2 linked regions of the Homo sapiens genome follow. The protein of the gene in region 2 interacts with the protein of the main gene of each other region in a biochemical or structural test. Each region holds a gene or a part of one and is shown on either strand. Other genes may lie near its edges.

Region 1 (3,911 bases), on a different chromosome or scaffold from region 2:
CTTCTGACAAAATTCAAATGACTTAATAAACTGGACAAGTTAAATACGAATGAGTACATACACCTACATCTTCCTTGCCTTTATATTCCCTACCTGATAAATCCCCACATCCTTTAAAATTCTAGCCCAGGGATCATCTAACGGTGAATTTCAACACCTCTAATGCAGTTAGCTCCTCCCTTCAGGCAGGGAAGACAAACAAATAAAGTAGAGAATAAATGAAAAAGATGATTTAAATAACCAATTATTTAATTTAAATTAGTTTAAGTGATTAAGTGCCATTAAAGAAAGACGGCACAGAAGAACAAATGGAGAGGTGTATTCTTAGACTGGGGAGTCATAAAAGGTCTCTTTGAGCAAGTAACTTTAGAGCTAAGACCTGGCTTGCAAGAAGCCAGGTAAGTAAAGAGGGAAGGGCCTTGGAAAAGGGGCAGTGTGAATGAGCTTGGTAGTGGAGAAGAACAGAAAGGAACCAGACTGTCCACAGCACCATGAGCAATGAGGAGAATGGATGTGACGAGTTTAGAAAGGTGGCTATGGGCCAGGTCATGTACAGCTTGGAGAGCAGACCCTGGAAAGTAAGTTTGGATTTATTCTAGGTACAATGGGAACACATTAAGCATTCCAAGTTAGTAGAGAAACATGGTGAATTTGTGTTTAAAAAATTATTCTAGCCACTATGTGGCGTATGGATTTTAGTAGATCAAGAAATGGAAGGAGGGATACCAGTTAAGGGGCTCTTGCGTTAGTACAGATAAGAGATGAAGATGGTTTGGGCTAGGGTTTACCAGTGGAGGGAGAGAGACGGACTAAGCAGAACTGGCAGCATACTTGCTAATGAATTAAAAGGGGATGAGAGGGGAATGTGGGAATGGAAAAATAAAAGAAAGAAAATAATTAAGAAATGACTACAAGGTTTGTGGCTTCCATAGCAAATAGTGACACTGGTAGTGACTTTTACTTTGACAGCAAACAAAAAATCCTGATCAGAAGCAGTAAATACTTTCCATAAAGTTAAATAGATTAGCAAGGCAAATAAGATGCTAAACTTTAAAAGTATACCAAGCTCTGAAAAATAGTTTCTCAATGGTGAGGTGCCCACAATATTTTGCTATTATTCTAAGTAAGTGCTTTAAGGACCTGAGCTACTGCATATTTACAGAATGCTGGCAGCCTTCAAAAAACCTTTAATAAATACACCCATGACAAAGACTCTCCCCTCTAGTAGCTAGCATTTTAAGGTGACAAAACATTACAAATTCAGTTCAAACTGATCTACAGGTAACCTTTTTTTAAAAAAATTAGATATATTAGAAGTGAAGTTAGATGAAGTAGTGATCGAAATTTATAGGGAAAAGAATTTTTATATCAGACATTCCTAGACTACAAATAGTATTTGAGAGAAAAGAAAATTAACCTTTTCCCCTAAACAGTTCTCTTTTTTAAAAACTAAAATTATTAAGGCATAAGCCTGTACTTTCATTCTGATAATAAACAAGAAAGCCACGTGACTTAGAAGCCACTCTTCCTTAGCTGGATGGGATCTCTAGTTAGTGCTTCTTTTGCTCTGGCCTATTTCATAGGGAGAAAGAAAGGGAATTAATATGTATTGAGCATATACTATTATATCAAGTAATCTCCTTGGAACTACGATTCCAATTTGTTCACAAACAAACTGTCTGTTATGTCAGCTATAGTTTCTTCCTGCCTGCCACACTTAGGTGGTTCTACCATGACTCCGATGGGTCTAAGAGCTGTCTGTATCTCCCTGCTATTGCCATGTTAGGAGTGCAAAGCCTCTGTTGTTATTCTTCTGTTGTTGCCAACCTTATTCCAGGGGTAATCTAGCTTTCTCAATTTAATCATCTGAAAGACACTGTGTTTTAACTTTTTTTTTTTTTTTTTTTTTTGAGACAGTCTCACTCTGTCTCCCAGGCTGGCGTGCAGTGGTGCGATCTCGGTTCACTGCAACCTCCGCCTCCCAAGTTCAAATGATTCTCCTGCCTCAGCCTCCCGAGTAGCTGGAACTACAGGCATGCGCCATCATGCCCGGCTAATTTTTTGCATTTTTAGTAGAGATGGGGTTTCACCGTGTTAGCCAGGATGGTCTCGATCTCCTGACCTCGTGATCCGCCCACCTCATCCTCCCAAAGTGCTGGGATTACAGGCATGAGCCACTGCACCTAGCCCTGTTTTAACTTTTTATTGTCCACACTTATAAAATTTTCACAGATCTCTTTCACTAGTAAGCATGATTGTAAAACTTAAAGCAGAGAGTCCTTTTAGGCTAATCTACTTTGAGTTCTCAGAGTAGCTATCATTTCTAAAACAGGCCTAAATTTTTAAAATACAGGCTTTTATCTATAAAATAAATAATTGTAAAAAACTTACGCAGAATGAGTTTGCGTTTCTTTTGCTCTGAGTGAAGAAAGCTACTAAGGTAGAAGACAACAGGTAGAAAGAGAATGAACACAGAAACAGCAATTACAGGCACTGTGTCACTGCAAGGGACTGAACAGTTGAAAGTTCGACTCCATAGTTTTCGAGTGATGTTCATCTGGAACAAGAGCAAACAATATCTTTCTATTTTATATTTAACTTGTCTTCAATTTCTTATAATTATTTTGCTAATAACTAAACAGGAATCTAGAATTTAGACTCAATACATACCTCTAAAAACCTACTGATAGTTGAGGACAACTTCTTCTGCCAGGAAAAAAACCTGGTTCAAAATACAGTCATTGTAGAAATTTATATCCATACAGAAATTTCATATTCTAAGTCCATAATACTGACCAAAGTATTCTAGAATGTCAACCATTTGTACATTCAAACAAAGAACTTATATGAAGAGGAATATAGTTAGGCCCTGTTTTATTCATTTACAAAATATTTATTATTTATTGAGAGCCTACTAGAAACCAGGTACTGTTTTAGGCAATAGGAATGGAGCAGTAAAAACAAACAAAAAGCCACACTGTACATTTCATTTTAAGTACTTTTTACCATCTCGAATATTATTGGTTCTTATAGTTCCCTCTGAGCTGCTGTGATAATTCACACATTCTCAATTCTTAAGCTCATTAATTCTGACCTCAAGTTCTCTACTTTGAGCCAATAATTTCTCAGTTTCCTCTAATGCCCCAAAACTCCAGCATCATAGTGCCTAAAAAGGCATGATTGCCATCTAGTGGCACCCTATGTAAAGGCAGGCTATAAAATGGAGAAAAAAAAATTTTTTTTGACCATTCAATTAATACATGTTTATTAAGCCCATTATATGCTAGACTGTCCTAAATACTGTCCTAAATACTGAATAGTGAACAAAAAAAGCCTAAGTCCTTGTCCTCATGTGGCTTATATTTTAGTGAGGAAGACAGACTAAAAATAAATAAATAAATATTTTCAGATGGTAATAGATATAAGAAAATAAAACAATGGAATAGGAAGTGATTGAGGAATGGCTTCTGAAACATGTAGTGAAATCCAGAAACGTCTTTTTTTTTTTTTTTTTTTTTTTGAGACGGAGTCTCGCTCTGTCGCCCAGGCTGGAGTGCACTGGCACGATCTCAGCTCACTGCAACCTCTCCCTCCCGGTTTCAAGCGATTCTCCTGCCTCAGCCTCCTGAATAGCTGGGATAACAGGCGTGTGCCACTACACCCGGCTAATTTTTCTATTTTTAGTAGAGACGGGGTTTCACCATGTTGGTCAGGCTGGTCTTGAACTCCTGACTTCGTGATCTGCCCGCCTCAGCCTCCCAAAGTACTGGGATTACAGGTGTAGTCACCGTGCCCAGCTCAGAAACTTCTTAAATTAGCAACAAGTGCACAAGAAACTGAAATATAAACATATAACAATACCTACACCTCTGCAAATGGCACATATTTTCAAATTTAAAAAGATTAAAATG
Region 2 (3,911 bases):
GGAAGGGCTCAGGGTGAACCTCAGGCCTGTGCTGTCCCTGAGGCCAAGAAGAACTGGCTTGTAGGCGCCATTTTCTGGCGGCTGCCACCTCCGCCATGCTGGCCTGGCCTCGATCCCACCCCTCCGCAGCTCCTGATGCGGTCCGTGCCTGTGGGGAGCAAGACCCCCCCACAACCCTGGAACTCACCCTGGGCCTCATAGCCGGCCAGGTCAGGCTTCTCTGAGGCTGCCGGGCTGGTCAGGCGGCCGAGCACCAGCTGCAGCTGCGCCACGTTCATGCGGGCCGTGAGCTCCCCATGGCGGTCCCCGATCTGCGGCGAGTGGGGTGGCGGAGCGGGCAGGTGTGGCTGGGGGCCCTGCTGTGGGCTCCAAGGGGACCTTAATGGCCCCCAGTACACCCGTCCCTGACCTTCTGAGTGACCTGAACTGGTCACTGACCCCTGGGCCTCTGAGGGAACCAGGACTCACTGTGGACCCGGAGGTGGAGTCTGGGGGTCTGTCCCTGGGTGAGGTGGCCCCACAGGTCCTCAACAGCCCCTAGTTCACCCCAGAGATGCTTGGGGTCCCAGGCGGTTGGGCCTGTGCCCTCCGGTGCGCGAGGGGCCCGGCCCCGCCCGGCTGCACCTCTCTCAGCCCCTGCCTTGTGCGCCGAGGCTCTGTGGGGGACCCTCCCGGGAACATCCACATCACTCAGGAACTAACTGTTTGCTTAAGTCAAGCAGAAGAGAGGTGGCATGGGGTTGGGGGGAGGGCCACATGGAGCCCTGGAAGGCCCTGGAGGCTGTAGCCTGCACTCAGAGGGACACGGGGGCTGCCTGCTGGCTGCCAGTGAAGCTCTTCAGACGAGGGCTCTGCTGACCTTCCCATGCCCGCCCCTCTCCACCCTCACCTGGGCACCTGCAGGCCTCCCCACCCGGCCACCTCCTACATGGGTCTATGGTGGTCAGTAGGGGCTGGCACCGTCTTTAGCATGAACAGGCTCGGGGTGTGCAGAGGGAGGTGGCGTGGGAGTGGGTGATGTAAGGACAGGCCGGGAGCCGGGAGGCCCACAGTTCATCTGTGATGTTCCGCCCTGACCACAGTAGGAGGGCGCTGATGGGCGGAGCCCACAGAGACCCTGTGCAAACTCTCCAAGGAGGAGGAGACGCAGCTGCCCAGGAAGGCACCAGCTGGGGGCTGCAGGAAAAACCCCCGGGCATGGTAGACATGTCATCACCAGGCCTCGGAAGGACCAGGCAGCTGCAATGGCCCTGAAAGGATGAGGGGGGCCCAGGCACGCACACGCTCGCTCGGGGCAGAGGGGACCCGGCCCGTCTGGAGTGGGCTGGGCAGTGCCCGGGACTTCTGGGGGCAGGCCTGGCTCACCTCCTGGGAGATCTGCAGGTGCTTCTTGGCGAAGGTCAGGGCCTGCGCTGGGCGCCCCATGGACACGTAGGCATTTCCCAGGCTCCAGCACGCCCGGCCCTCGCCCACTCTGCCAGAGAGGGAGACCAGATTCATACCCGCCCTCTCCAGGCCAGCCCCCAGCCCCAGCCCCTCCCCTGGTGGTCACGGCCCCAGCATGACCCTGGCTTCGAGGGTCATCAGGGGCCCCCAGGCCCAAGGGGCATTGGCCGGATGACAGGATAATGCCCCCAGCTGGACCTCCCACAAATTCTGCCACCTTCAAGCATAAGCCCCAATCAGCTCTGCCTTTTTTCTTCCCATTAAAAGGATTAGCGCAGAGTCCAAGCAACCTGGCCTGTGGCCGGCTCTGCCTTTGCGGGCAGTTTCTGGGCCCTTGGCCTCGCTCGCCCCCTGGCGGCCGGCAAGCCTCCTCCCTTGCACTCCCTCCACCCTTACGGGCACCCTCCAAGTCACTGGGTGAGGGGGTTGTTTTTATATTGGAGGGAAATGCGTCTAACAGGAATTTGATCATTTTCACGTGGACGATCCACTGGCATTTTGTACATTCATGCTGTGCAACCGGCACCTCTGTCTATTCCAGAACATTCTCCTCACCACGCCACAAAGGAAAACCTTGGGCCACTTTTAAGCCTCCAGGCAGGGCAGCCTTTCAAAAGACCTCTCCTCTCTGCTGCCTGTGAAAGGCCACAGGCCTGTGGCTCTGAGCCCCTTGTTCCGGCCACCACCCACCCCAGACCTGCACACAAGACAGTACTTAGGGGCCTGTGGTTTGCCAGCCTGTCTCTCTCCAGAGAGTGATATTTACATACATACATGGGTGGTGGGGGCAACAGGGTGGCGAATTGAGGGATGGGAGGGGGACCCCACCCGCTTGTGCCAGGGGTCAGTGGCCGGCCCAATGTCCACACTGTCTGGCTCAGTCCCCACAGTGGCGTTGCCACTCCTGGGTCACAGCATGGTCAGTGGCAGAGCAGGGGATGGGACCCAGGCCACCTCGCCTGGGCCGCGGTAATTCAGCCTGTGGGCCGGGCCGGGTCTGCCCGCCGCGTCCGCGCCCACGCACCTGTCGGCCAGCTCCTGGGCAATGAGCAGGTGCCGCAGGTGGTACTCGGCCGCGCGCTCGTAGTCCTGCAGCAGCGTGTAGGTGTTGCCCAGACTGTAGCAGGCCTGCGCCTCCACTGCCTGGTCCCTGAGCTGCCGAGACAGTTGCAGCGTCTTCCTGTGCAGAGTGGCAGGGTCAGCCCCCAGGAGGAGGGCTCCAGGGTGAGGGGTGGAAGGTAAGAATGGGGACGCAGTCTGCCCGATGGTCCCCTGCCCCGGAATCCCACTGGGGCCTCTCTGGGGTCCAGCTTCATCCCCACCCTCACATGGCCACAGAGCGGGACTGTTGGCCCCAGGGGGACGGGGGGTCCTGCCAGGCTCTGGCAAGTTGCCTGACCACCCTGAGCCGCCACCACTCCTCCCCGGAGGACCTGAGACTGCTGTGCCCACTGCTCAGGCTGAGATGGGGTTAAGTTTAGGGCTGGGCACAGGACCCCGTGCTGACAGCCGGGCTCCACCCGGCAGGCGCTGCTCTGTGGCTCAGGCCAGGAGGCAGATGGCCCAGACCTCCCATAGGCCGGCTCCCCCACCGCCTGCCTCCCCATGAGCTTTGTCCGTCTGCCCTTCCCGGGGCAGCCTAGAACCCCACCTTGCCTTCTGGGGAGGGGAGGGGAGGCAGTCAGATTCCCAGCTTGGGGCGGGCACTTCCTTGGCCTGGCATCCAGCCCCCCCGGCCTGCTGTCTCCCTGGGAGATTGTGGGGACCACCTACTTGTAGTACTCGGCGGCCACGTCAAAGCGCCCCAGGAAGACGTGGGCGTTCCCCAGGTTGCTGTAGGCCCTCCTCTCGGCTGCCTTGTCTCCAAACTCCTTAGCAATGGCCAGGCGCTGCGGAGACACACCGGAGGCCAGGTGGTCATGGCGCAGCCCCGGGGCCTGACGTGGGCGGACAGGGGCTGCCTCCCTGCCCAGGTGGCCGGCCAGAGATCTGTGTGTCCGGGTGAGCAGCTAGCAGCTGCAGGACCAAGTGCAGATGAGGCCAGGACTCGGTGGGGCGGGCCTGCTGCCTGGCCATACCACCCTGCCCTTTCAGGGACCGCCAAGAGGGTGGCTCAGCCCTGCCCCTGCAGCAGCCCGGCCCCTCCACCCTGTCACCCTGCCCGGCTCACCTCCTTGTGGAAGGTCGTGGCCTCTGTGAAGTTCCCCAACAAATAGTGGGTGTTGCCCAGGTTGCCGTAGGCCCTGCCCTGCGCCGCACGGTCGCCCAGCTCCTTCACCAGGGACAGGTTCCTCCTGGGGGCCGAGTGCCTCTGAGCCGTGTCCCTCCCAGCCCATGTCCTCACCCACCCCAGGCTAGAAGAGCTGAGTAGCGGCCTCCATGCGGCCTCAGGGCCATGCCCTGGAAAGAGGGTGGCTAGGGTAGGCTCCAGGGTCCTCGAGCTCTGAGACCTGGGGCTTGGTCAT

The links.
Region 1: the proteins of GPSM1 (region 2) and OSTM1 form a complex in vitro, tested with the Homo sapiens proteins (one study listed by BioGRID).

Annotation. Positions count from the first base shown.
Region 1 is NC_000006.12:108,046,862-108,050,772, forward strand, and holds part of OSTM1 (osteopetrosis-associated transmembrane protein 1 precursor), read right to left. Parts: intron 2,723-3,911; coding exon of another isoform or gene 2,671-2,722; intron 2,558-2,670; coding exon 2,392-2,557; intron 1-2,391. UniProt on the Homo sapiens protein: Required for osteoclast and melanocyte maturation and function.
Region 2 is NC_000009.12:136,337,270-136,341,180, reverse strand, and holds part of GPSM1 (G-protein-signaling modulator 1), read right to left. Parts: intron 3,741-3,911; coding exon 3,617-3,740; intron 3,336-3,616; coding exon 3,220-3,335; intron 2,627-3,219; coding exon 2,471-2,626; intron 1,475-2,470; coding exon 1,366-1,474; intron 312-1,365; coding exon 188-311; coding exon of another isoform or gene 21-187; exon of another isoform or gene 1-20. UniProt on the Homo sapiens protein: Guanine nucleotide dissociation inhibitor (GDI) which functions as a receptor-independent activator of heterotrimeric G-protein signaling.